Homo sapiens: one gene and its partners. The protein of the gene in region 5 purifies or fractionates together with the protein of the main gene of each other region. This does not show direct contact. Each region holds a gene or a part of one and is shown on either strand. Other genes may lie near its edges.

What was found.
Region 1: the proteins of ABCC6 (region 5) and AKR1A1 purify together in Homo sapiens (affinity purification with mass spectrometry, with the first as the bait; one large-scale study listed by BioGRID). This does not show direct contact.
Region 2: the proteins of ABCC6 (region 5) and GCN1 purify together in Homo sapiens (affinity purification with mass spectrometry, with the first as the bait; one large-scale study listed by BioGRID). This does not show direct contact.
Region 3: the proteins of ABCC6 (region 5) and EIF2S1 purify together in Homo sapiens (affinity purification with mass spectrometry, with the first as the bait; one large-scale study listed by BioGRID). This does not show direct contact.
Region 4: the proteins of ABCC6 (region 5) and SUCLG1 purify together in Homo sapiens (affinity purification with mass spectrometry, with the first as the bait; one large-scale study listed by BioGRID). This does not show direct contact.
Region 6: the proteins of ABCC6 (region 5) and ADNP purify together in Homo sapiens (affinity purification with mass spectrometry, with the first as the bait; one large-scale study listed by BioGRID). This does not show direct contact.
Region 7: the proteins of ABCC6 (region 5) and ROCK2 purify together in Homo sapiens (affinity purification with mass spectrometry, with the first as the bait; one large-scale study listed by BioGRID). This does not show direct contact.

Annotation. Positions count from the first base shown.
Region 1 is NC_000001.11:45,563,942-45,568,145, reverse strand, and holds part of AKR1A1 (aldo-keto reductase family 1 member A1), read right to left. Parts: intron 1,578-4,204; coding exon 1,458-1,577; intron 1,278-1,457; coding exon 1,126-1,277; intron 165-1,125; coding exon 1-164. UniProt on the Homo sapiens protein: Catalyzes the NADPH-dependent reduction of a wide variety of carbonyl-containing compounds to their corresponding alcohols.
Region 2 is NC_000012.12:120,156,581-120,160,784, reverse strand, and holds part of GCN1 (stalled ribosome sensor GCN1), read left to right. Parts: intron 1-529; coding exon 530-643; intron 644-761; coding exon 762-960; intron 961-2,169; coding exon 2,170-2,325; intron 2,326-2,754; coding exon 2,755-2,936; intron 2,937-3,792; coding exon 3,793-3,873; intron 3,874-4,180; coding exon 4,181-4,204. UniProt on the Homo sapiens protein: Ribosome collision sensor that plays a key role in the RNF14-RNF25 translation quality control pathway, a pathway that takes place when a ribosome has stalled during translation, and which promotes ubiquitination and degradation of translation factors on stalled ribosomes.
Region 3 is NC_000014.9:67,376,872-67,381,075, reverse strand, and holds part of EIF2S1 (eukaryotic translation initiation factor 2 subunit 1), read right to left. Parts: intron 418-4,204; coding exon 311-417; intron 1-310. UniProt on the Homo sapiens protein: Member of the eIF2 complex that functions in the early steps of protein synthesis by forming a ternary complex with GTP and initiator tRNA. This complex binds to a 40S ribosomal subunit, followed by mRNA binding to form a 43S pre-initiation complex (43S PIC).
Region 4 is NC_000002.12:84,434,722-84,438,925, forward strand, and holds part of SUCLG1 (succinate--CoA ligase [ADP/GDP-forming] subunit alpha, mitochondrial precursor), read right to left. Parts: intron 1-4,204. UniProt on the Homo sapiens protein: Succinyl-CoA synthetase functions in the citric acid cycle (TCA), coupling the hydrolysis of succinyl-CoA to the synthesis of either ATP or GTP and thus represents the only step of substrate-level phosphorylation in the TCA.
Region 5 is NC_000016.10:16,156,823-16,161,026, forward strand, and holds part of ABCC6 (ATP-binding cassette sub-family C member 6), read right to left. Parts: intron 2,762-4,204; coding exon 2,660-2,761; intron 988-2,659; coding exon 841-987; intron 1-840.
Region 6 is NC_000020.11:50,890,602-50,893,815, forward strand, and holds part of ADNP (activity-dependent neuroprotector homeobox protein), read right to left. Parts: coding exon 804-3,214; 3' UTR 1-803.
Region 7 is NC_000002.12:11,337,575-11,341,778, forward strand, and holds part of ROCK2 (rho-associated protein kinase 2), read right to left. Parts: intron 1-4,204. UniProt on the Homo sapiens protein: Protein kinase which is a key regulator of actin cytoskeleton and cell polarity.

The DNA of each region.
Region 1 (4,204 bases), on a different chromosome or scaffold from region 5:
TGAGTATGTCATCAATCTGCCGACTGTTGAAGTTGGACAGGCCCAGCGCCTGCACCAGCCCCTTAGCCACCAGTGCCTCCAGAGCCTTCCAAGTCTCCTTGTAGTGGGTGGAGTCGTAGCATATAGTCCCATCAGCATTCTTGGGGAAGGGGTTGTCTCCCCGCCTGAGTGAGAGACAGCCCCACCAAGTGTGGACACAAATGCCAGGCTTCTACCCTACCTGCCCATCCAGCCACTCTATGTCCCAAACTCCAATCCCAGAGAGGACAAAGGGCCAAGAATTTTTAAAAAGCCATGCTTTTTCTTTTTTTTTTTTTTTGAGATGGAGTCTCGCTTTACCGCCCAGGCTGGAGTGCAGTGGCACTATCTCAGCTCACTGCAAGCTCCACCTCCTGGGTTCACGCCATTCTCCTGCCTCAGCCTCCCCAGTAGCTGGGACTACAGGCGCTCACCACCACGCGCAGCTAATTTTTTGTATTTTTAGTAGAGACGGGGTTTCACCGTGTTAGCCAGGATGATCTCGATCTCCTGACCTCGTGATCCGCCCGCCTTAGCCTCCCAAAGTGCTGGGATTACAGGCGTGAGCCACCGCGCCTGGCCAAAAAAAGCCATGCTTTTTCATCCTTCCAGATCGTAACCCAGGTGTTAAGTTTACATGGAATGCCTATGCCCCCTCCTCTTCCTAGACGTAGATATCTCCTCTCCCCTAGGAAGTCTTCCTTAACTCATCCTCAGGGAGTTATCCACCCTTCTTCCAGCACAGGGCACGGCACTAATGGTGAGCTCTTCTCACATCTTCTGCTGAGACTTACTTATTACTGTAACCCCAGGTGCTCAACAGAAAAGTCAGCACCTTTTCTAAATGAATAAAGGGAGCAGGAGGGTTACAGGTGCATACCCTGGGGTACACACCATGTGAGACTGCCTTCCTTTTTCCAGAGTTAAACTCCTGTAGCTACAGCTAAGCTGCTGTAGCAGAAGAGGCTAAGATCCCATGTCAAGCTCCTCAGCTTGGCATGCAAATGAGTGTTCCTATCCTGCTCTGCTGCTGTGACTTACAATAAGTTACTAACACCATCCTGCTCAACCCCCTGATTCCCCAGATGAGGCTCTGGCAAGGCTCACTCAAAGGCATAAGGCCAGTGCATCAGGTACAGGTCCAGATACTCCAGCTGGAGGTCAGCCAGAGTCTTCCGGAGGGCAGGCTCCACATCCTCGGGGTGGTGCTTGGTGTTCCACAGCTTGGATGTCACAAACAGCTCCTCCCGAGGCACCGCCTAGTGCAGGGGGCAGGGCCCACAGTGAGAAGAGCCATGAGCACGTGGTCTCACCCACCCTCAACTCTGGGAGAGGAACTGGAAGGAAGCTGATGCCAGATTCCCTCCAGCTGGGCCCCAGCCCTAGCTTCAGCTTCTAAGTTCTCTTATCCCACCTCTATTTACAACCCCAGTCCTTACCTTGCCTGGTCCCACGTCCTCCTTCAGGGCCTCCCCAATCTCAGGCTCATTGCCGTAGATAGCAGCACAATCAATGTGGCGGTAGCCTACGCTAAGGGCATACTTAACAGCTGCTTTTACCTGCCAGGTGAGAGAAGCAGAGGTTTCAGCTATGTTGGTTTCAGCCTTCTACTGTCACCACCCCAAGGTCAATGCTGGGGGAAGGGGGCTCAGAAATATAACAGGCACATCTATGCAGTGGAGGTGAAAAGATGGAAGATGAACTGGGCGCGGTGGCTCACGCCTGTAATCCCAGCACTTTGGGAGGCTGAGGTGGGCAGATCCCCTGAGGTCAGGAGTTCGAGACCAGCCTGGCCAGCTGGAGGTCAGCCTGGCCAACATGGTGAAACCCCATCTCTGCTAAAAATACAAAATTAGCCAGGTGTGGTGGCAGGTGCCTGTAATCCCAGCTACTCAGGAGGCTGAGGCAGGAGAATCACTTGAACCCAGGAGGCAGAGGTTGCAGTGAGCTGAGATTGTGCCACTGCACTTCAGCCTCGGCAACAAGAGCGAAACTCCATCTCAAAACAAAGAAAGAAAAAAAAAAAGATGGAAGATGGTTTCAGTCTAAGGGACCAGAAGCCTCTTCAGAGGCTCCAAACCCTTTGCTCTGCTCCCACCCCAACCAGTCTCTAAGATGCCTTCCTACCCAAGCCATCTCAGCAAGGTCTAGCAAAAACTAACAATATTTTCCCGGCATCTACCATAAAGAGGGCTTCAGTAAATATTTTTTCAGGCTGAGCACAGTGGCTCACGCCTGTAATCCTAGGACTCTGGGAGGCTGACATGGGAGCATTGCTTGAAGGCAGAAGTTCAAGACCAGCCTAGTCAACATAGTGAGACCCCCACCTCTTTAAAAAAAAAAAAAAAATTAAGGCCAGGCGTGGTGGCTCACGCCTATAATCCCAGCACTTTGGGAAGAAGAGGCAGGTGAATCACCTGAGGTCAGGGGTTTGAGACCAGCCTGGCCAACATGGTGAAATTCTTTTCTCTACTAAAAATACAAAAATTAGCTGTGCATGGTGGCATATGCCTGTAGTCCCAGCTACTCAGGAGGCTGAGATAGGAGAATCGCTTGAACCCAGGCGGGGGAGGCTGCAGTGAGCTGAGATCATGCCACTGCACTTCATCCTGGGCGAGACAGAGTGAGACTCCGTCTCAAAAAAACACAAAAAAAATAACAACAAAAAATTGAAAACAAATTTTTTTTTTTAAATAAAAGCCAGGCGCGGTGGCTCACACCTGTAATCCCAGCACTTTGGGAGGCCGAGGTGGGTGGATCACCTGAGGTCGGGAGTTTGAGACCAGCCTAACCAACACGGAGAAACCCCGTCTCTACTAAAAATACAAAATTAGCTGGGCGTGGTGGTGCATGCCTATAATCCCGGGTACTTGGGAGGCTGAGGCAGGAGAATCGCTTGAACCTGGGAGGTGGAGGTTACAGTGAGCCAAGATCATGCCATTGCACTCCAGCCTGGGCAACAAGAGTGAAACTCCTTCTCAAAAAAAAAAAAAAAAAAAAAAAAATGGCTGGGTGTGGTGGCTCACGCCTGTAGTCCCAGCACTTTGGGAGGCTGAGGTGGGTGGATCATGAGGTCAGGAGATCGAGACCATCCTGGCTAACACGGTGAAACACCGTCTCTACTAAAAATACAAAAAATTAGCTGGGCGTGGTAGGGGGTGCCTGTAGTCCCAGCTACTCAGGAGGCTGAGGCAGGAGAATGGTGTGAACCTAGGAGGCGGAGCTTGCAGTGAGGCGAGATTGCGCCACTGCACTCCAGCCTGGGCGACAGAGCAAGACTCCATCTCAAAAATAAAATTAAATAAATAAATAAATAAATAAAAATTTAAAAATTTTCAAAAATAAATAATTTTTTTTTTCAATCAGAAGACAGATGGATAAATAGAGAAAAGAAGTATAGACCATGGAAACAAGTTCCAGGTTCTAAGGAGCTGGTTAGAGAAACACAGGAAAAAATTCCTAGGCCAAGGACATACAGGGAGTTGTGTAGACAGACTCTGGGAACTCTGGGAGCACAGGCCAGCAAAAGAGGTTAGAAGGGGGAAAAGATTAAGGAAGGCAGATAAGTAGGCTGAAAGCTGGAGGCAGATAAGTGGGCTAAAAGCTGGACCCAGAACTCCCTAATGAGAGAGAAGAAAACAGGCATCAGATAGAAGGATGGGTCAGTTAATTTTGCTAAAATCCAGACTGGAAACACGGCATCAGCAGCAGAAACAAGGGTACCCGGCCCTAGACACAAAGCACCCAAAGCTCTTGTTGTGGGTGCCTGACATAGTATTCAAGATCCCCACCCGGGTGCCGACGTACTTCCCCTAACATCTGACCCCTGCTGTTCCATGCCCCGCCTTGGCCTTGTCTGTGGCCCCCAACCCTCTGCCTTGACCTAGCTCCTGGACTTCTCCGAGGCTGTGAGAAGTGCCTGCCTAAAGCACAGGGACCCTGGCTCCAGGCTCCTTGGCAGCTATAGGAAAGAAAGCAAAAGGGAAAAGAGACACAGGTCATCCAAGCACACCACAAACATCAGTCTAAATCCCAGATAGAAGAATCTGTTCTCTCTGCTGGGGCTTCTCTGAAACTTAATCCCCAAACTTCTCTTCACTCTGACTCAAGATTTCCAAGGAAGAAGGAAGAAGCCCTGGGGAAATGCCCCATTCCAGGCAGGAGCCAAATCTCATAGCTACGTCCA
Region 2 (4,204 bases), on a different chromosome or scaffold from region 5:
GGACTTTATCTTGTTCCTACGATATTCCTGCCATCTGGAACAGTGCCTGGCACAATCCAGGTGCTCACTAAATGTTTGCTGAATGAGTGAGTGAGTTCTGTGGCTTGTTGTCTCAGGCCACTATAGCAGGCCTTTTCTAAGCTTCAGCTTATCCTGTGGGAGAGCTTATGTAGGAAGGGGTTGGAGAGGAGGAGGCTAAAGTTTTGATTCTGAATCCATTTGGCTGTCAGAATACCCTTTTGAGTACATTGAGGAACCTTTATTTCTCTAACATAAAAAGCCCTCTTAGCCTTTGTCAGTAGAGAATCCAGTAAAACAACTACTTCTCTATTGCTGTCTCCATTCTATAGAAACCAGGTGGCTGTGGACTTTGTGGGAGGTTGGGGGTGCACATGGTGGGTTCAGGGGCCCAACTCACACTTAGAGCTGGTATGGTGCTGTTTGTGTGGAAGCAAGCTCACCTTCCTCTGTTGGGGAGGGAGGTCTGTTCCCTGGAGATGGGATTGGTTGGTTTGCCCATCCTCTTTAGGAGATAAAGAAGAAGAAAGGCATCAAAGAGGAGGTGCAGCTGACCAGCAAGCAGAAGGAGATGCTGCAGGCCCAGCTAGACAGGGAGGCGCAGGTCCGGAGGCGGCTGCAGGAGGTGAGTGGCCACCTCCGCCACATGCTCAAGCCGGAAGAGTGCTGGGCAGCTTGGTCCTGCTGCTTGCTGTCACAAGCAGGGCCCTGCTGACCTGCCTTCTGGACAACTCTGCTTGCAGCTGGATGGGGAGCTGGAGGCGGCGCTTGGACTGCTGGACATCATCCTGGCCAAGAACCCGTCCGGCCTGACCCAGTACATCCCTGTTTTGGTCGACTCTTTTCTGCCCTTGCTGAAGTCTCCCCTGGCTGCTCCCAGGATCAAGAACCCCTTCTTGTCCTTGGCTGCCTGTGTCATGCCCTCTAGGCTCAAGGCTTTGGGTTAGTCCTTGTTTGCTGGCTGCAGGGATGGCCCAGGGGTGCCCCTGAGTGCTTGGACAGGGTGTGCCCCTGAGTGCTTGTGGGGAGGTGGGTGGTGACCTCAGCTGCTGAGTTTTGTTTTCTTGTGGAAGCAGCCTTGGAGACTCAAGCTGGATATGCTTAGGAGAGACGTAGTGCCTCCTCTTCTCTCCCACTTCACATCTGTGCCCTCCCTCTGAGGAGTAGGTTTTAGATGCTAGTCAGTGTTCGATCTTTGTATACCAGTTTTAAAACTAAGAAGTCAGAAGTTCAGTGGCAGTGAGGATGGTTTGGTGGCTCAGCCCAGCCCAGATCTCCTGAACAGCCACATGACAGCAGTGAGCAGAGGCCCTTGAGACCTTTAGCTTCCTCTTAGCTCTGGAGAAACAAACACCAGGTAGGGTGGCTGGCAGTTCTGGTGGCCTTGCTTCTGTGGGTTGTTTAGTGGCCTTCAGCAGACTTCTATCCTGGCCTAACGGTGATGTTCCCACGGGTGAGGCTAGAATCTGGGAACTGTTCTGAGTGGAAAAGTCAGCTGGTGCATATGAAACCTGCCAGAAGTGTCACCTGGCTGTCTGGGCTTGTTGCGTAGAGGTGGAGATGCTGCACAGATAGAGCTGTACTCTTGGCTGAATGACTCTTTGGTGGCCCTTGTCTCCTGTCAGCGTACTCATTTCTTAAATGTCCAAAGGGCAACTCTCTGCCTACCTGCCCTCTGAGGCTGTCACAAAGATCAAGTGAGAAATTAGGCTGGGGACATTTTGGCGAAGCAGAAAGATTTTTTTTTTTTTTTTTGAGACGGAGTCTTACTCTGTCACCCAGGCTGGAGTGCAGTGGCGCCATCTTGGCTCACTGCCAGCTCCGCTTCCCGGGTTCATGCCATTCTCCTTCTTGAGCCTCCTGAGTAGCTGGGACTACAGGCGCCCGTCACCACGCCCAGCTAATTTTTTGTATTTTTAGTAGAGATGGGGTTTCACCGTGTTAGCCAGGATGGTCTCAATCTCCTGACCTCATGATCCGCCCGCCTCGGCCTCCCAAAGTGCTGGGATTACAGGCATCAGCCACCGCGCCCAGCCGCAGAAATATTTTTTTAAGTCAGAAGGATGAGGCACTGGGTCCCCTGTTTTAGCCTGGGCTGGATTCCACATCTCTGTGTGTCATCTCCTGCTGGGTCTCTCCTCTTCAACACAGGCACTTTGGTGAGCCACGTGACCCTGCGCCTGCTGAAGCCAGAGTGTGTCCTGGATAAGTCCTGGTGCCAGGAAGAGCTGTCGGTGGCTGTGAAGAGGGCGGTGATGCTGCTGCACACCCACACCATCACCAGCAGGGTGGGCAAGGGGGAGCCAGGTAAGGGCTGGGACGGGATCAGGGGCACCAGGCGGTGTGAGCTGGTGCCAGGAATGCTGCTCAAGGCACAGCGTCACCCAGGGCCTCCTGAGCCTGGGGGATTGGACCATATGGAGGATTTCTGAATTGAACCTTCGTAGTCTGTGAATTGCAGTGAGCCCAGTTGAGGGTTTACTTTTTGTCACTGGTGTCCCCATCTCTGTTTTAACTCTCACATCCTGGAACTGGGCAGTGTTTGGCAGTAGAAGCAGAATTGGTTTTAGAACTGGACTACCAGCTGCTGTCTCTGTCCTCGTGCCATGTGCTTCCAGGTGTCAGAACGGGCCTCTGGTCCATCCGTTCCCTACTTTCCCTGAGGATAGAAATAGGCAGCAGTGGCCCGGGTCCCTGCCCTGCCTGCAGAATCTTATCTGCTTCTCGCTCTCACAGGTGCTGCGCCCTTGTCCGCGCCAGCCTTCTCCTTAGTCTTCCCGTTTCTGAAGATGGTGCTGACGGAGATGCCCCACCACAGTGAGGAGGAGGAGGAGTGGATGGCCCAGATTCTTCAGATCCTCACTGTCCAAGCCCAGCTGAGGGCCTCCCCCAACACCCCACCCGGGCGGGTGGACGAGGTTGGCAGGGAAGCTCTGCTCTCCTCTTGGTTTAAAGGGGATCAGGGAGGCAGGGCCTGTGGACACGTTTTGTCTCATGAACAGTTCCTGGTGGGGAAATAGAGAGTGTATGTTTATACCAACAGCAGCCTCACACAGTGTTGTGGGTTTTTTAAGGCAAAAACGGGTCAGACTGCTTCTTTCATGTGATTGTAGACTCTGGCTCTCCTGCCATGCCAGTACATGTCAGTTCACCTGATTGACTTTGTTGGCTGCATGAGATTCTGTGCTATGGATGTACCATGTTTTACTTAACTCTTTACCTGTTGATGAGTTCTTAAGGTTGTTTCTAACTTTTTCCTGTTTTGAACAGCACTGTGATGTGCCCTCTTGTATGTATATGCCCCTTACTTAACCAGTGTGAGCATTTCTTTAGGACAGGTTCATTGGACATGGAATTACTAGATTATATGGCATATTCTGAGCTATACTCTCACCAAGAGTTTTCTTTTCTCAAAGCCTTAATGCAACCTCAGATAGTATTAATATCGTCAGTGATGAGTGAAAGAATGATAATCTCATTTTATTTTGCATTTCATTTAAAGTTGAGTGTCTCTTCATATATTTACGGTCTTTCTGGATTTCATAGTGTGAATTTCAAGCAAGTTTCAGAATTTAGTTTTTAGTTCCTGAGGATCATGGTTGACTGGGGTTAGCACCTGTGGACCTAGTTGTAAACTTAATGAGGTTTCTGTGGTGGGGCCGGTTGTATGATCCAGAATGTTCCCCCGTGGGTGAGAGGATGCCCTGCCGTTGGCCGCCTGGGTTACAGACCTCCCCACAGCCTCATCTCGACTTACCTGCCGTTCTCTCCTAGAATGGCCCGGAGTTGCTGCCTCGCGTGGCCATGCTGCGTCTTCTGACTTGGGTGATCGGGACGGGCTCGCCTCGCTTACAGGTGATGTGGTTTTCAGTTGGCTGTTGCTGTGACTCAGTTCGTGACCCAGACCTCAAGTCCCAGTGTAAAGGGTGGAGTCCTAGTTTCCTTTCAGCCCTTACTTTTGGACTTTGGTAGAAAGACTGCTTTAGAGAGCCAGCCTGACTGTTGTTAGCTAGTGAGGGGTTTTGCTTGGGTCCTGCCACTGGAGCTGGGGTCTTAGCCCTTGCAGTGCTGTAGGGGTGGGTGTTCTCAGTGCATATCCCTCTCTGGCCCCCTAGTAGTAAATGAGTTGCTGACTGAACCAGTGGATTGATGTTCTCCTTAGGTTCTGGCTTCAGACACCCTGACC
Region 3 (4,204 bases), on a different chromosome or scaffold from region 5:
ATGTCTCATCTTTGTAAAAATTTGGAATATTTTAAAGTATGCACTAAAACAAAACAATCAAACCCCTCTTTTTAAAAAAAGGGCTACCTTTAGGTTAGCTGAACTCACAAGACTGTTTCTACTTGTGTCAATATATAAATTTTATGATTCAGAAGCCAAAATAATTTCTTAAGCTTTTGTTATAAAAAACAACCATTTAGAAAAATTTATAGATGTTGATGTAGCAACATATTCTTTGGTAAGTCTCATTATTTAATAGCTTTTTTGATGCATGCAAAATACTGTAAAAATCATTTAAAAAATCATTTACCTGCTCGAATTTTGACAGCCTGTGGGGTCAAGCGCCTATTAATATTATTAATGAGTACTTCCCGTTCATCTTCATTCAAATCTAAACTATCCAAAATAGATGGGTCTCTGGTCAAAAACATAAATAAATAACAAAAGGTCAAGGTTATATTACTGATAAATGTGAAACCAAACACTATGGAACAATGCATATAATAGTTAAGCATATAATAGTTAATGCATATAATAGTTAAGGCTTTAGTGTCACAATTAGAATTCAAATCTTAGCTTTGCACTTACACCCCAACTGATTATTAGTGAAATCAAAATTTTAGTGATCTGACTAAAACAAGCAATTTAATGCCTAACACATCTGATATTCTACTATAATTGATTACTTCCATGCAATTAGCTGTCCCTGCCTCAAGGAGTTTATAATCTATCTTGAATAGAAAAAAAAAACATGGAAAAACTTTTAAATGTAACAGTACATCTGTGGGCATCAGGACAGAAAGGTATTACTTCCAGTTAATGAGGTCAGGAAGGGCTTCATGCAAAAAGTAGCATTTCATCTGACCCTCCTAAGTGCCACAGGACAGGGACCAGGGTCTTATTAACTGGCATGTTTGTTGAATGAGTGAGCAAATGAAAATATGAAATAAAGACTAAAAGAGGAGTAGCACTGTAAAAAGTAAAGGTAGAACTATTGTAAAAAAGTTATGATACATAAGGCTGGGCACCAGTGACTCATGCCTGTAATCCCAGCACTTTGGGAGGCTGAGGCAGGGGGATCACTGGAGACCAGGAGTTCATAGACCAGTCTAGGCAACATAGCAAGACCTCCATCTCTATTAAAAAGAAAAAAAGACACTTTGGGAGGCCGAGGCGGGCGGATCACGAGGTCAGGAGATCGAGACCATCCCGGCTAAAACGGTGAAACCTCGTCTCTACTAAAAATACAAAAAATTAGCCGGGCGTAGTGGCGGGCGCCTGTAGTCCCAGCTATTTGGGAGGCTGAGGCAGGAGAATGGTGTGAACCCGGGAGGCGGAGCTTGCAGTGAGCCGAGATCCCGCCACTGCACTCCAGCCTGGGCGACAGAGCGAGACTCCGTCTCAAAAAAAAAAAAAAAAAAGAAAAAGAAAAAAAGAAAGTTATGTCATGTAAAAAAGGAATAGCATGAGCAAGCATCAGGCTTAATAAGCAAGGGGTCTTATTGGGAATAAAAGGCAAGAGAATTTGGGTGGAGGGAACTTTTACTCAGCTAACATAAAGTAACGAGAAGACAACCAACATAAATGTATAAGAAACAAGATGATAAACAGAAAATGGGCAAATGAGGTGAACAGATGTTTCACAGAAGAAATACAAATGGTTAAGAAACATGAAAAACTGTTGACCTCTCCAACAATCAGGAGTATGCAAATCAAAAGATACTACTGTGAATTCATTAGACTAGAAAAAGGAGAAAAAATCAGATATATACCAAATTGTGGCAAGGATTTGGTGAAACCAAGTCAGTTTAAAGATATATAATCAATCCTATGACCCAACAATTCCACTCCTAGGCATATATATTAGAAACTCTCAAACAACTACATATAGAGACACATACACTATTCATCACAGCCCTGTTTGACAAATGGCACAGAAGGGAAAATTACCTAAACAACTCTTAATAGAGGAACAGATAAAGCATATTCTCACAATGAAATACTATATAGAGATTAATATGGATCAAGTATACATCTATCATTGTGGGGGAATCCTGCTTAATAATAGGCTTATATGTAAAAATGCAAGCTACAAAAAGATACAATAGGTTACATTTTAAATAAAAAATGATAATAGACACATATGTAGTAAAACAATAAAAACAAATGATATTGATACATAATTTCAGAATAGTGGTTATCACTGATAAGTGAGGAAAATAGGTCTGGAAAGGTAAAACATTGTTTCCAACTATGTCAGAAATTTTATGTAATTAAAAGAAAAATGCAAAGAACTAGCATTAGTTAAATCTGGACAGTCCCTACATGAATGAAGCAAGAAAAGAGTGCTAAGGAAAAGGGAATAACACACGCCAAGGTTTAGTGGTAACAAGGGGTTGCTGGAACTAGAAGTTAAAGAGGTAACTAAAGAAGCCAGATGATGACAGTTGAGACAAGTTAAGAAATGTACTGAGGACTGCAGGACAGAAATATAAAGTTGTGTTTAATGGCTAATAGTGCAAACTCTGGATGGAGCCAGAATGCACGCGTTTGAATACTGCCTGGCTCTATGATTTGTTAGCTGTGTGACCTTGAACAAATTATTTAATCTCAGCTTCAGTTTCTTCAACTGTAAGAAAAGGATAATAATAGCATTTATACCACAGGTTGTTGTTAGAATTATATAAATGTTAGTTATCATTATTACTATTCCCACCTTTTCTACCACGTGATATACCAAAAAAAAAAAAAAAAAAAAAAAGTCACATGAGAATAAACTTGAAGGGATTTGGAACCCCAGATGAGTTGGCTTTCTGGGGGACTCTTAATGGTCTTGGGTCCTACTCATTCTCTTTTTTCCCCCCTCTAACTCTTAACATTTAGGAAGGAGTGGGAGGTAAAGAGACAGCAAGTATAGAGAACTGAAAGAGTCTGGCTTTTTTTTTTTTTTTAAGAGACAAGGTCTCACTCTGTCATCCAGACTAGAGTGCAGTGGTGCAATCACAAATCACAGCTCACAGAAACCTCAAACCACTGGACTCAAGTGATCCTCCTGCCTCAGCCTCCCAAGTTGCTGGGACTACTACAGGCAAATGCTACCACACCTGGCTACTTTTAATTTTTTTTTTTTTTAGAGATGGCAGTCTTGCTATGCTGCCCAGGATGGTCTCCAACTCCTGGCCTCAAGCAATCCTCCCACCTCAGCCTTACATAGTGCTGGGATTACAGGCATGAGCTACCACACATAGCCAAGTGTGGCTGTTAAAAGCAGAGGACGCAGTGTTTGCTCCAAGAGAAAGTAAAGGAAAAGTTGAGAAGTGGGTTTTATAGTATAAATGGAAGAAACTAGAGATATTTTTATGCTGATGGAGTAAAAGCAATAAAGGGAAAGGTGACCCAAGAGAAAAAGTAACTAATAGAGATCTCTGAGCAGCAGCTGGGCATAGGTGGCAAGACTAGTTTGAGAGCAATTAGGACACAAATTCCAGTGACAGCAGCATAGGAAGAAATGACAGGTGGGACAGAGATATGTAAGTTTGTTGAGACAGTGGAAAAGTAGTTCTTGTGCAATGGTTTCTATTTTCTTTATAAAATAAAATAGGTAGTGAGCATACCAGCCAAGAGGCAGGGAGCAGGGATAGAGTGGTTTTCTGAGGAAGAACGTGGAAAAGCTCTAAAATAGCCACTACTGAAGAACTGACCAGGAGCAGAGAGAATGTGGAACAGCTGAGGCTGGAGACCATGAATATGCAGTGGACCAACCTGCAAGACTGATTTTTCCTAGTAGCACCCAGCAGTCTACAAGTACAGAGAAGGCAGGAACATTGATCCAAGGCTGGATGGATGGAAGGAAAAACAAGGCAAAAGCTCACAATAATGGCAACAAAGTCGTTAAAATGATGTATCATGGTGTGCCTATGTTGGATAAGAGAGAAAAGGCAGGAAATGGCGAAAAGACAGGGAGAAAAAAGGTTTGGAATCAGATCCTAACATACAGAATTAAGATGACAAATAATAGGACCAACTGGGAGCTAGATGAATAGGAGGCAGGGGCAAAAGAACAGAAAGTGTGAATTAAAGATTTTAGTGGCAGAGCAAATCCCGGTGATAGTAAGGCCCAGGCTAAGGCTACATGGAAGACTGGCTAAAGTGGTGTGGGCTGAAAGTCAAAGGAGAGTCAAAAGAGGTAGAGAAAACAAGAGGT
Region 4 (4,204 bases), on a different chromosome or scaffold from region 5:
CTGAGACAAAAACCATAACTATAAGTTACCTCAACTTCCGTGCTACATGTTTACACTCTTAAACAAAGTGCTATGTCACCATTATTGTATACTAATGCGTACTAAGTGTGTGACCTATGCATAAACACATCTTCTCACTATGAATTTGGGCACACAATAACTTCAGGTTCTACATACCAAATTCAAAGTCAAATTCAAAGAATGGTGTGTACGTAACTTAGTCATTGCTAAGCAGACCCTACAGAACACTGTCAGATTGCTCTTTTAGATGCATTTCACTAGACAGTGACAACTAAATCCTCGACGATGCCTCACTTCACGTGGAACTCTGCTCTAACTCGCCAGCCCAGCAGAGTCCCAGCTTCCCTCTCCAGACTTGTTTCTTACTATTTCCCTACCTAGTGAAACTGGGTTATTCCTCATTGATATTTCATGCTCTCCTATCTTTTCATATTTGTTCTGCTTAAGATGGAGTGTTTCACCTCCACCATCTGACAAAACTTCTAATCATCCTTCAAGGTCCACATTAAATGCTACTTTCTCTTTGAGGTCTTTCCTGATCACCCCCAAAGAGAAGTGAGATATAATTTCCTTCTCTAAATCTCCTCAATGCTTTCATATTTCCTACTGCCCTCATTACTAAGAAATAAGCAGAAGTTATATCTTCCCTACCACTGTGAGAGTATTTCTGGGGTAGAAACAACGTCATTCATTGAATGGTTCACTATTAGCCCTAATGTTACCATAAGACACGTAAGAATGTTAGGCAGATGGCCAGAAACAAGCAAGCAGGGGAGCCCTGGGAAAAGTCCTGGAGGCGCTGCCTGCTGACCGTCTGCAAGAAGGCAATGACTACACAGTAGGCTTTTGTTCATTATAATAGTAAAAACCACATCCCTGTGTGGAGATTTTAAATGCTAATGAGACATGCGAGGTGTATACTAGCATGTACAACTACAGAGCATGTAGCATGTACACACAAGGAGACTGCTTAAAACATGGTTGCAACTGATACCCTCTCATGCCCCCCTCATGAATAATCATGCAATATTCTCATAAAGAGGGTCCCCCAGCATTAGCTGCTGCTAGCTCATCCTCTCTTTCCAGCAGCCTGTTCTGAATCATCTCTCAGGGTGTGCTGTCTCTTTAAATAAACACTGCCACTACTGTTTTCCAGGAGGTCAGCCAGCCAGTCAGCCGTTCCTCTCTTTGAATGCATTTTATCTTCCTTCAATAAACTCTGCTACTTAACCCTTGTTGTGCATCTCTTGGTTGAATTTTTTCTTCTAAGAAAACAAGAACAGCAGTTCTTGCAGTACAATTCCAGTACCTTCCGGTAACAAGAGGGCTCATTTCTTGTCAACTCTTCTTGCTCCTGAGGTCAAGGCAGGTACTGATGGCAAATACTGAGGACAGAGGGAGGATCAAGAAGAGAACACTGAATGGCCTACAGCAACCTACAGGTAATTATTTTTTTCTAGTGTTACAGCAAACACTACTAAGTTTGAGGTCACTTTTAGGTAATGCTAACTTTCAGCACTGTTAAGAATTATATTAAAATCATAATAATGCTTTTTAAAAAACAAAAATTTTATCAAGAGCAGAAATCCTGAAAAGCTGATCTAAAATACTGATTCTACCTAGCTTTAACAGGCAGATATTTATATTTGCCTTACAGAAAGACTGCCTTGGGATGGAACGAACACAAACTTTTTATTCAGAAGGCAAGACAGTGCCTCCGATCAACAGCTTAACATCTCTAAGGAGACTACCTGCTGGCCTGAGCCCTGCCCTCGAATCTGCCACATAACATGGCCTCCTACTGCTGACACAGTAAAATGGAATGATCCATCTGTAAAAGGTCCATAAGGAAAAAAGGGAAGGATAAATTTCAAGTTTTAATTTTTATCTAATAATCTTGGCTTGGCAAAATAAATTCATAGTCAGGCTTGATCAACCAGCCTGAAATTTGAATATCCTGACCACACACTGATTCTCCAATTAAGAACAATGTTCTCCTACCACCTGGTTCAGTAAAAGACCACCAATGGTGCTTGAGATTCTATAGCAGCTACCTTCTTCACTAGACTATAATTTTCAATGGGTCAATAAATAAGAGTCTTCACAACCCCTATATTCCCAGCTTAAAGCACAGTTCCAGGCACAGAAGGTAAACATATATGTTTACTAAGTGAGTTGAAACTGAAAACTCATCAATGGAGTAAGACCACCCTCTTAAGTGAAATTTAATTTTAATAGTTTTAAGATTATTCACTTACTGAACCCTAATGCATAACAAATGACAACCACCACAACTTCCACCCCACGTATGTCTCATTTATCACTTTTCCCCTATTCTCAGTGCCTTTGTCCCATCCACATCCTCTGTCTTCAACACGGTCCCTCCCCTCTATGGGACATTTCATCATTGAGAAGATTAGGTGGATAATGCCTACCTACTTATGTAATGGTGTATTCCTATCAAAATCCCAAGAAGAGTTTTTATAGATACAAACAAGATACTTTTAAATAAATATGAAAAAGTAAACTGGATATCCAGCAAAGTATTAGTATCTAGAACATACAAAGAACTGTAAAAAATAAACCATAAAAATGTAAACAATCCAATTAGAACATGGGCAAAACCCAAGGAGGGGCATTTCACTGAAAAAGATAACAAATGGCAAATAAATTTATTTTAAAAATCTATAAAAAGATAATCAATATCATTAGCCATTAGGCGAATACAAATTAAAACTACAGTGAGCTATCACTAAACACTTACCAGAATGGCTAAAATAAAAACACAGTGACACCACCAAATGCTGGCAAGGCTGTAGAGAAACTGGATCATACATTGCTGGTAGACATGGAAAATGGCACAGCTACACTGGATAGCAATTTAGCAGTTTCTTAAACTGGATAGCAATTCAGCAGTTTCTTAAAAAACTAACATGCAAGTATCATACAACCCAGCAACCATGCTCCTGGACATTTATTCCAAAAAAATGAAGACAATGTTCACACAAAAACCAGTATACAAATGTTTATAGCAGCTGTAATTGTAATAGGCCAAACTGAAAACAACCCAGATGTCTCTCAACAGGTGAATGGTTAAACAAACTGAAGTACATTCATACCATGAATACTCCTCAGTAATAAAAAGAAACAAACCATTGATACACAACAAGCTGGATGAATCTCTAGAGACTTATTCTGACTATAAATAGGCAATCCCAGAAGGCTACATTCTGTATGATTCCACTTATATAACATTCTTGACATGACAAAATTATACAATTGGAGAGTAGATTACTGGTTGTCAGGAACTGAGAAGGGGGTGGAAGCAGGAGGCACGTGACTAGAAAAGGGTAACATGAAGGATACTTGTGGTTATAGAAAAGTTCTCTATATTGACTGTATCAATGTCAATATCCTGTTTATGAAATTATACTACAGTTTTGCAAGATGTTAACCATTGGGCTAACTGGATAAAGGGTGATCTGTCTGTATTATTTCTTACAACTACACATGAATTTATAGTTATCTCAATATAGGCAGTTTAAAATTTTAAAAGAGGCCAGAAGAGTCAAGTATGTGACATGTGGTTGAGAGTAACAAACTGTCTATCATAAGAGAAATAAATAACATGGTGCAGTTAAATATCATCAATTTGGAATCCAATCACTTTCTTCGATAACACTCAATTAGCAGATATGCAATTATATTAGCTGTTATTAACAAAAACTGGAAATCCATTACACTATTATACTGCTATTACATTACATTATATTCCATTCAGAAATATCCAAGGGACTGAAAAGTCCTTCCTTTCCCTTAACTCTCAACCTAAGGATCTGAAGTCAAGGAGGCTATTGAGACTATTAGCAATGGTACCAAAATAGGAAGAGTTGGCACAAATAACCATCTTTCTCTCCTCACCCCCTCAAAAATCTTGTAGTGTTGAAAGTGAAGCCAGCTGGACTTCCTGGGTTGAGTGGGGACTTGGAGAAATTTTCTGTCTTACAAGAGGATTATAAAATGCACCAATCAGCACTCTGTAGCTAGGATTGTAAAACGCACCAATCAGCGCTCTGTAGCTAGCTAGAAGTTTGTAAAATGCACTAACCAGTGCTCTATAAAAACCCACCAATCAGCGCTCTGTAGCTAGAGGTTTGTAAAATGGACCAATCAGCAGGACACG
Region 5 (4,204 bases):
ATCCCAGCTACTCAGGAGGCTGAGGCAGGAGAATCACTTGAATCTGGGAGGCGGAGGTTGCAGTGATCTAAGGTCACACCACTGCACTCCAGCCTGGGCAACAGAGTGAGACTCTGTCTCAAAAAAAAAAAAAAAAAAAAATCACAGGAGAGCAGATTGGAGCTGGTGAGACAGGATCCACTGCTTTTTAGGGGACAAGGAGAGGACAGGGAGGAAGCCTCTGTAGGTTCAGAGGGAGGGAGGAAAGGGATTCAGTGAAGGGGCCTGATGAGGCATCTGTAAAATGGGATAGTACTAGCACCTCACTTAGGGGTTGTTGTGAGAGTGAAAACGCAAATAATAAAAGCATTAGTAAACATTTCTGGAGCACTTTCTATGAGCTAAGCATGTTCTATGTATTAACTCAAACTTCACAACAACTCAGAGATCAGTATTACCAGTCCCAATTTACAGATGGGAAAACTGAGACTGAGCTATGAAGTGCTTTTCCCAATGTCTCCCAGCTGAAAGCAAATATCCCATTTGTGCAAACTGGAAAATGTACCTGGAGCATTTAACACACTGCCCAGCACATATTAGGTGCTGGGTTAATGTTAAAGGAAGAAGGAAGTCACGGAGTTGCTTCCTCATCTGGGGACACCAAGGTGGATGAGGAAGTCACCAGATGGAAGCAGGTTTGGGGAAGGTGAGGAGTTCATTTTAGGGGGTAATGGGTCTGAAAGCTAGGGGACCTGAGGTGGGGACACTGTGGAGGTGGCTGGTGCCCAGGGTTTAGGGCCTTGTCCCTGGAGTCCTTTGGCCTAAACTCCATGAAGAAGACATTGTGAGAGAACCACTCACCTTCTCTCCTGCGTGGATCTTGAAGGACACGCCCTGCACAGCCAGCGGGAGCTCAGGTCGGTATCTTAGCCCAAAGTCCCGGAACTCGATCTGCCCGCCCTGAGGCCAGGGGGGCTGAGCTGCACATGTGGGCAGCCTCCAGGGAGCCTGGAGCAGGAGGGGAAACTGAGTCAGAGGAGCCTTCCTCTAAGACTTCACACAAGATGGCCCACCTCTATCAGCTTCAGTTTTCTCTTCCGCAAAATGGACGTATTTATTGCTGTTTTACAGGGTTGTTATGGGAATTCAACAAGAGAGGGCATGGACTATGTCAATGCTAAAAACAGATGGTGGTGGCTACTTTTAGTCTATTTTATTGTTATTATTAGCCACTGTTTATTATAAAATAATCTCTTTTTCTATAGTGGGAGCAGACATTTCTCTTTGTCTTTGTGAAAGGACATGACTGTGCAGTGGGAAGACCAATACTGCCTTTGCTGTTCCCGTGACCTTGAACAGATCATTCTACCCCCTTGAGTCTTGGTTTTCCAATCTGGGAAATAGGGCTAATAAGAGCAGCAGACATGTATTGAGTGTTTGCAATGGACCAGGCACTCTATTAAATCATTTCTTTGCAGGATCTCATTTGATCCTCCCAGTAAACTCAACGCTGTTATGTTACTGTTACATTAGTGCTATGCTGCTGTTCTTATCCTTTCTTCCACCCAATCCCATCCATCCATTCATCCATCCATCTCTTATCCTTTATCCACCCCATCCCACCCATCCATCCATCCATGCATCCATCCATCCATCTCCAATCCCATCCCTCCATCTCTCATTCTTCCATCCCATTCCATCCATTCATCTGTCCATCTCTCACCATTTCTTCTACCCTATTCATCAACTAATTAATTCTTCCTTGTTCTGTTACTGTAATGTTACTGTTATATTGCTAACACATTATATCATGTTGCTGTTTTGTTACCGTTGCGTTGCTATGTTGCTGTTCTGTCCTTATAATGCTACTGTTATGTTGCTGGAATTTTGCCATCATGTTACTATAATGTTGCTGTTTTCTTACTGTTACATTGCCATGTTGCTATTCCGTTACTATAATTTCAGTTATTTTGCTGGAATGTTGCCATCATGTTACTATAATGTTGCTGTTTTGTTACTGTTACATTGTTATGTTGCTACTCTGTTACTCTGTTACAGTCGTGTTGCTGGGATGTTGCTGTCATGTTATGATGTTGCTGTTGTGTTACTATTGCATTGCTATGTTGCTGTTTTGTTTCTATCATGTTACTAAAATGTTGCTATTACGTTACTATTACATTGCTATGTTGTGGTTGTATTGCTGGAATGTTGCCATCATGTTACTATAATGTCTCTATTATGTTACTATTACACTGCTATGTTGCTATTCTGGTACTGCAATATTGTGGTTATGTTGCTGTTACATTACTGTTACATTGCTGTTGCATTACTCTCATGTTCTGGAATATTGCCATTGTGTTGCTGTTGCCATTATGTTACTATCATGTTGCAGCTATGTTGCTGTTGCAATGCTGTTCCTTGTGGTTCCCTGCACTCCCATGGGTGACCTGCTTTCCTCAAGCTCAGAAGCAAAGGAACCAAGATTTGGCCTGGCTCCAAACCTTATGCTCCTAACCACTGCTGCCACCCTGTCTGTGACTCTGACCTATAGTGGTGGGGGTTGAGTGAGGGGAGAAGAGGGTATAAACTCCAAAGCCTGTAGCAGATGTCAACAGGGACCCATTGCCCCCCCCCACAATATGTCCTTGCTGGGACCCCCTCCCCACCTCCCGCCCATCACCTCCTTGGGCGTCCAGGCATAGTCCTGCATCCGCTCCACTGACACGATGCTGTTCTCTAGGTCTGTCCAGTTGCGAACAACCCACTGCAGTGTCTGGGTCACCTGGTGCAAGAAAGCCTCTCTGGCTGGGTTTGGCAAGGCCACTTGAGGGCTTGCAACAGCCCCCCTGGTTTCCCAACCTTTTCTGGGAGGCCAGACCCAGGGGAGTAAAGAGGGGAGGCAGGAATGGGACAGTCTGAGGACCTGGGCCCAGGGGATTGGGATTTGGATACAACCAACAGGTCCCTCTCTTCCTTCAGTAGAACCAGAGCATGCAGAGCAAAAAGAAGCCCTCAGACATCAGCTTGTACAAACTGGCTTGATGCAGGTGAGTAGACAGGATCAGAGAGGGTGTGTGGCCCTCCCAAGGACACACAGCAGGACCCAGGCCCACTGATTCCATTCTGACGGCTTTCTCGCAGCGACTGGGTGGCCACCAATTTCCCATGACACTTAGAACCACTCCAAGCTCCTCCCTATGAGCCATTAGCAGCTCTAGCCCTGCCATCCCATCCCCAACCTTGTCTCCCAGCACCCCTGCCTTCACCCACCCTCTCCAGCCACACCCGTCTTCTTGCTGTTCCTCTAACACACCAGGGATGAACCTTCAACTCCCAGGCCTTTTCTTCCTGCTGTTAACCTCACTTCCTCCTAAGTCACCTCCTCAGAGAGGCCTTTCTGGATGCAGTAGGAAAGTTCCCTCACTGCCACCCAACATGCTCCAGCCTCTTACTTCATCCTTAAGCTTAGCAGCCTTGACTGTAAAATGAGGATAATAACAGTGCTTCTCTGATGGGGTTGTGGGCAGTATTAAGTGAGTTAATATTTATAAAATTCTTGTGCACAGTGGCTCATGCCTATAATCCCAGCTTTTTGGAAGTCTAAGCAGGAAGATTGTTTGAACCCAGGAATTGAAGGCTGCAGTGAGCTGTGATCACACCACTGCACTCCAGTCTGGGCAAAAGAGTGAGACCTTGTCTCAAAACAAAACAGCTGGGCATGGTGGCTCACACCTATAATCTCAGCATTTTGGGAGGCTGGGGCAGGCAGACCACTTGAACCTAGAGTTTGAGACCAGGTTGGGCAACATGGTGAAACTGTTTCTACCAAAAAAAAAAAAAAAAAAAAAAAAAAAATTAGCCAGGCATGGTGGTGCATGCTTGTAGTCCCAGCTAATTGGGAAAGTGAGGTGGGAGAATCCCTTGAGCCTGGAGATGGAGGCTGAAGTGAGCCAAGATCATGCCACTGCACTCAAGCCTAGGCAACAAAATGAGATCCTGTCTCAAACAGCAACAACAACAAACCAAAACGAACAAAAACATATAAAGCTCTTAGAATAATGCCTCCTCCATAACAAATGCTTATGAGTGTATATATATATTTTTTTCATAGATGTCATGAACTGACATTACATACTGTTAATAGTTAACAAAAATTAGCCAGGCATAGTGGCTCACGCCTGTAATTCCAGCAACTTGGGAGGCTGAGGCATAAGAATCGCTTGAA
Region 6 (3,214 bases), on a different chromosome or scaffold from region 5:
ATGTGATTTTAGCTTAAAAGATTTCAGAAAACAGATCTGAAATACCAGTTTTTGTTTTTGACAGCTGTAATGTCAAGGATATTCAGAACAAGAAAAATCCTATAATACAAGAGAGTCCAGATATATATCTTACGTGGCTGGCCTCTGTTGCAAGATTGTACAAGGTTATGTGCAAAAACTAAGTCTGTCCAAAAAGTCCATACTAGCGCAGTTTTGAGCTTTTGCTAGGTAAACTAGATAGAGCGTTTATTACACAGCAAGGGCAACACTAAAAAAAGAAATCTATGATGGGCACACAGTAACAGGATCATGAGCATCACTTGAATAGGTCTAAAAGACTGTACAAATATACATTTCAACTATTCAGAATGAATACATGAAAAAAAATCGCTTTTCCCAAAGTCTACTATACACATTAGACTGGTAGCTTGTATGTTGGCCCTACACTACCATGTGAATTAGTTTAACACTTCTCAAAGACATCTGACCAATCATTTCACAGAGGGAAAGAAATGTTGAAAAGGCAGATAAAATAAACCTCTGCTTTTCCTCGTGTGTATTCATGAGTCACCAGCTTATTGGTTTTTCACATTTAGTTACCGTGTCTGTCAGAGAAGGTTCTGAAGCAAGAACAGCCTGTCCTGTCATAGACTTAGAAATAACCACTGGAACTGCAGCGGCCACATGCCCCACAGTCCAACCAGTACTCACAAGGCAGTACCAGTGAGAAGACAGCTTTGCAGTCACACTGGATATCAGAGTTCCAGGCTGCAGCATGTCACCAACGCCAGGGAACCTGGCACTTAGGCCTGTTGGCTGCTCAGTTTAACTCCGGCTAAGCTGCCATGCATGGGCTCAGCTACTCCATCAGTCATGTTGTCAAACTGTTCCCCATCCTCACTGTCAATTGTGCTATTCTGCCACTCAATCTGGGGGTTAGATAAGCGCTCATCATTCTCAGATGCATTCTTCCACTGTGACTGGTCCTTAGACCAAAACCCTTCAACTTTTCCATAGGAACTATTCTTCCATTTCAACTGCTCTCTGTCACCTTGCATGGTAGCCTTTTTTTTGGCAGCTGGCTTACTGCTCCTTGCATCTTCGCTTTGGGAAGACTCGTCAGACCAGGTTCCTGGTTTCATTTCGCAGGTATTGTCCTCAAAGTCTGACACTTGTTGGGATCCAGGCCCACTCTCAGATGGAGAAGCACCGTCTTTCCACTCAACAACATCGTCTTGGTCAACCTCACTATCAGATGCATTGTGCATTAGTTTGGTTGGTTCCTCAGTCAAATGAATAGTTTCGTATTTTGAACCATCCTCTTTTTGGTCTAGCTTCTCCTCAGATTCTGAAGCATCCTCAGGAATTACCTTCAGTACATGTTCCTCTGGGTTATCGTTAGAGATTTTAGGTTCAACTTCAAAAACAGGGTCAAAAGGGCTACCACTTTCATTGGATTCTTCTTCCAAATTTTCAAAACTGTCTGAGGAACTGTCATCTTCCTTCCCAAGGTTGAGCTTTTTGTCAGCAGTCTTACTAGCATTGACTCTGGAATCCTTCTCATCATGATTTTCAAATAGCCACTCAGCATCAAAATCCATCTCATGCTTGACTTTATTTAATTCTTTCATGTTAAACCCCAGCAACACGCCAGGCTTGTACTTTTCACAATCACGGACACACTTCTTCCTTTTGTTACTAAAATGGGAAGCGATGTCACTCTTCCATAACCATAAACTGGCTGCTAGCTTCTCAATTTCTCTCCTGGTGGGATAGGGCTGTTTGTTGAAATACTTTGTTAGAAAGCTTTTCCTGGCTTCATAGGAATCATCTTCATGACCCTTGGGGTCTAAAGCTAAAACAACAGGCTCTTCAGGCTTCTCTTCAAAGAAGCTGGGTGAATCACTATCATCATCTAACTTTCGTTTTTTCAGTAAGGGAAATTCCATTTGCTCGTAAGTGCGCTTCACAGGTGCCAGACTTGGAGACTGATTAAGCCGAGAGGGTGCATTTGTCTTATCCTGGCCATTTTGGGTCTTTCCAACGCCCCTGCAGTGAACTAGATGCAGAGTGATAGTTGAGGCGGTCATGTTGCTGGTATACACACCAAGGCAATGGATACATTTGTAGGTGAGCTTTTTCTCAACTGGATGAACCGTCTGAATAACTTGGTGCCTCTCTCGTAAGTGATGTGCAAGTGCATCAGATATGGGTCCTTTTAGGATTGAAAAGCAAAGAGGACAAAGGGTTTTCCCAACATCTTTTTTATAGGGCACTGCAGCTTGAGGTGAACTTTTTACAGGGATATCTGCCTTTTCCTGAACCTTTGGCTGTGGCTTTGGAGGAACTGGAGGATTATTTTGGGCATGGTAAGCAACAGATTCAGCTGGGGCATCCCTCAGATTGTATGTAGTTACCAGGAGATGGATGTTAGTGTGACTACCCTGCTGCAATGTCAAATCAAAACTCAAAGTAGAATCTGTTTTAGGTCCCATCTCTTCATCAATGTGAACCATCCGCATGTGTGCGGCCATCTTTTCCACATCATTGAAAGTTGAACGGCAATATGGACAAGACAGACCATGAATTAACATATGGTTGAGCAGAGTATCTGTGGGTAAATAGCGATTACAGTAGAGGCATTTGCTAGTAAAATTGTGTATTTTCATAATGTAGTTGGCTACTGCTGGGACTTTCTCAGCTTTATGTTCTTTTTCGAAGTGCACACTATAGACATTTTCAGGAAAAAGCTCATTACAGATTGTACATATTTTCCACTTTTGAGTTGAGGAAGTGTTACCTGGGGGAGGGCCTGTGGCAGCTGCAGCAGGTTTGGAACTGGACTGACCTAACACTCTGGATGCCTGTGACTGAGAGAGGGAAGGAGACTTTAACTGGCCCGATGAGAGAGAAGAGGCATTAGCAGACTGCAGGGAGTATCTTGCTGGTGCCTGGGACCTCTGCTCTGACCCAAGCCCATAAGACCTTCCGTTTCCACTTGGAAGTAACTGCTTTACAGACTGAGATTGTTGAGGAATGGAAACTGGTGCGTTGCCACCTAGACCCAGTCTCATTGACTGACCAACACTGTAACCCTGGCCTACAGATTTGACTCCATAGTTGTTCTGCTGCAGATGAACACTGGACATCATGTTGACTCCTGTAGAATTTAAGTTAGGCTTTGGTATTGAGAGTCGATTCACCATCTGCTGTG
Region 7 (4,204 bases), on a different chromosome or scaffold from region 5:
CATATACTGTTGGTGGGAGTATAAAATGGTATAACTACTTCATAAAAAGATCTGGCAGTTTCTTTTTTTTTTTTTGAGACAGAGTCTCACTCTTGTTGCCCAGGCTGGAGTGCAATGACCCAGTCTCAGCTCACTGCAACCTCCCACCTCCTGGGTTCAGGTGATTCTCTTGCCTCAGCCTCCCAAGCAGCTGGGATTACAGGTGCGTGCCACCACGCCTGGCTAATTTTTTTTTTCTTTTAATTTTTAGTAGAGATGGGGTTTCACCATGTTGATCAGGCTGGTCTCGAACTCCTGACCTCAAATGATCCACCCACCTCAGCCTCCCAAAGTGCTGAGATTACAGGCATGAGCCACCATGCCTGGCCATCAGTTTCTTAAAAAGTAAACACATATCTGCCCTATGAGTTAGCAATTCCACTACAAGGTATTTAATTTACCCAAAAGAAATGAAAACTTTCATAACAACTGTATTAAGAGCCAAAGTAGGCTGGGTGCAGTGGCTCAGGCCTCTAATCCAACGTTTTCAGGGGCTGAGGCTGGAGGATCACTTGAGGCCAGGAGTTTGAGACCAGCCTGGACAACACAGCAAGACCCCATTTCTGCAAAAATAAAATAAAATAAAAATTAGCCAATTACAGTGGCACAGGCCTGTAGTCCCTACTAGAGGGGCTAAGTTGGAAGGATCATTGAGACCAGGAGTTGAAGGTTATAGTGCGCTATGACTACACCACTGCATCCCAGCCTGAGCAAGAGAGCAAGATCTTGTCTCCATATTTTAAAAAAATCAAGCCAAAATATATAATACACTCAGCACTCTGTATCCATGAATCCAACCATGGATCAAAAATAATTTGGAAAAAAAATAAAAATTAAAAAATACAAACTAAAACAATACAGTATCGTATTAGGCATTGTAAGTAATCTAGAGATGACTTAAAGTATATGGAGGATATGCACAGATTACATGCAAATACTAATGCCATTTTATAAAAAGGACTGTGCGTCGTCGGATTTTGGTACGTAGGCAGACTATAAGGCAAGTATCCTGGAACCAATCCCCGGAGAACACCAAGGGACCAGTGTACATTCTGAAAACAAAAAACTGAAAACTAGTCCAGGTATGCATCAACACGAGATATCCAAGCAAACTGCAGTTTATACATATAACAGAAGACAATTCAACAATGAGAAAAAGGAATAAACTGCTGACACACACAATAACACAGATAACTCTCAGAAACAATGCTAAATTAAAGAAGCCAGACACAGAAAAGTATATACTATATGATTCCATTTTTATGAAGTATAGAAGAAGTCAAAGTAATCTTTACTGCAAAAAAAAAAAAAAATCAGAAGAATGACTGCCTCTAATAGAAGAAAATGGTGTGTGAAATTAGCTGAAAAGGTGTGAAGGAGATTTCTGAGTTGGTAATAATGGTCTGTATTTTTACAAGAATTTGCATTAAATAGGTGTGTGCATTTGTCAAAACTCACCAGCGGTACACTTCAGATCTGTGCATTTCATTGCATGCAAATTTAATCTTTAAAAAATCTAAACAAATATTGAACTCTTCTTAATTAAATACATACTGAAGTGTTTGAAGGTGAAGTATACTAATATCTCCAATTTACTTTAAGTGAACCAAAAATAAAAGATGTATTGATAGATGGATAAAGGAATGGACAGATAAAGAAAATACAGCAAATACAGCAAAATATTAATTATGCGGTAAATATATGGATGTTCACTGTCGATTTTTTCACCCTTACTATACTTCGAAATTTTCTATAATAACATCATGGGGAAAATTTTCAACTCTATCCATTATATTAAGTTGACTGAACATAGTATATCTTAAAATCCAGCAATTCCACTCCCAGATATATACCCTAATCTACAGGAATTATTCACGTGAGCTCCAGAAATGCTCCTAGCAACACTTTCCATAACAGAAAAAAAAAAACAAAAAAAAAAGAAAGAAAGAAAACTGTAAATATCCATTAAGTAGATCGGAGCTATACTGATTATCATAGCAGAGAATATGAATAACCCACAATGTTAGTGAATCTTAGAAACACCATTTTCAGTAAATAAAGCAAGTCATAAAAGAATACATAAAAATGCTGACATTTTATAAAGTTAAAAAAACAAGTAAAACTAAACAATATTGTTTAGAGATACACACAAATGTAGTAATCTATGAAATGAAGCAAAGGAACAATAAAATGTTCAGGGTAGCAGATGAGAGAGGATGCAGGAAGACTGAATCCAGCAGCGGCGACGGCACACAGGTAACTTCTACAGGCTAGTGTTCCACTTATTAACTTGTGTGGTGATTTCATGAATATGTTTTTACGCTTCGTAACTTATATTTGCATACTATATTTTTAGAATTCAAAATGGGAAAAAGAGGGCTATCTGATCAAGACTTGGGAAATAAAAAACAAAAAAGTTAGGTTTCAAGATAATTATCCACTATTTATTTACAGCTACTGAAGTGTATGTAAGTCCGTATTTCCTTACTTAGTCTACATTGGCCTTACCCTGGGACCAAAATGTTTCCGAACTCAGAATTTCTTGGATTTTAGAAAGGTACACAGTACATATACTGTGTACTCCCAAAAATGCTCTTGAAAATCTGGGCAACACCCTGAAATCAAATACATTCATATTCCTCCAGCAAAAGGCATTATTATTTACATCAAGAGGAATGACTAGACCACAAGTATTCTAATGTGAGATTAGGTCAGATGTTATCATCAAATACATTTTACCAAAAACTGGGTTTTTTATATATCAAAATTGTGGATAAGGGATTGCGGACCTGCACTTGCTTCACATCAACAGTAAGTTCCACACATCACCTTTTTTTTAAAACCTCCCTAGCTAACTCATTTTCTTTAAATATCTCCTATCAACATGAAAGTTTTAAAGTAAACTAGTCACAAATTTTACACTATAAATGCCAAACTCTTCATAAAGAAAAAAATGTATAAAATGATTTTTAATTTTTATTCTATTTCATTTTTATTGTATCTTTATAATGTTCTTACTTATTACATGATGGGAAAAATACACATACAATTTTATTTTAACTAGGCAAATAACCAGCAGCATGCTGAAAGAGTCTAAGCACTGAGATAATATTGTCAGATAGTTTACAAGTATAATGAAATCAATCAAATTATTTTATGTTTTATGCCACTGAAAATTGTAAACAAAGTTTTAATCACCTTTGCCCATCCACACAAGTCTTAAGTAAGAGTTTACCCAAGCGTGAGTCCTACAGGTTATTGTGACTGTTTACTCTTTGAAAGAGTAAAATAAATCAACACTCAAAAAGCACAGACCTTTAGAAAAATATCTCTTCAGCAAAGCCTGAAACACAGTTCTTTTTACCATAATAGGTAAGCAGTATGAGAAGCTGGTCTTGACAACAAAGCATAGGTATTTACCCAAAGGTTTCAAACACTACAAAAGCATATTACTGAAGACTCGCCTCCAAAAAAAAAAAGAGGCAGTAGAGAAGCAAAACTCTAAGTAATACTAAGCGGCTCACAATCTGCAACCATAAAAGAGATATACTCTTCTCAGATTAATTTAAGGACCCACATAAAGCCATGAGCCTTTGCAGAGAAACAAGATGTCATCTTTACACTGATTTAGTCTTGGAATCCAGCTCTACCTATGCCTAATGATTGCTAGCACTTTTCTGATGACAAATTCAAATGATAATGCTACTCACTCAAAATTATGTAGCAAGAAATAGTTGCAAATAAAACCATTTTCCTTTGAAAAGAAAATTTAAAGCAGTTAACTAATAACATGCTAAGTGTGCACAGGAGAAGTGAACTAAATTTAATGAGCACTGTGATGTACCAAGCACTAGGCTAAGCACTTTACACGTTATCTCATAAAACTTTGTTTCCTACAGAGTTTTACCTTCTAGGCCTAGCCCACTGAAAGCATCATACAATCATTTCTGGTGTACTTCATCTTCTTTTGTCATCTTAGGTATATACTATTTTTAATGGTACTTTCTGAGCTCCTGAATGTAGTGTCGCAGCTGTGTTTGCTTTAAATTATATTCCTTTAAATTTTCTGTTAAAGACAAAATATGTATTTCCCATGGCAAAACCAAAAAATAAATGTCATAGGCAGTAAAACAATGACCAATAGTGAAATGCAACCTAAATGCTA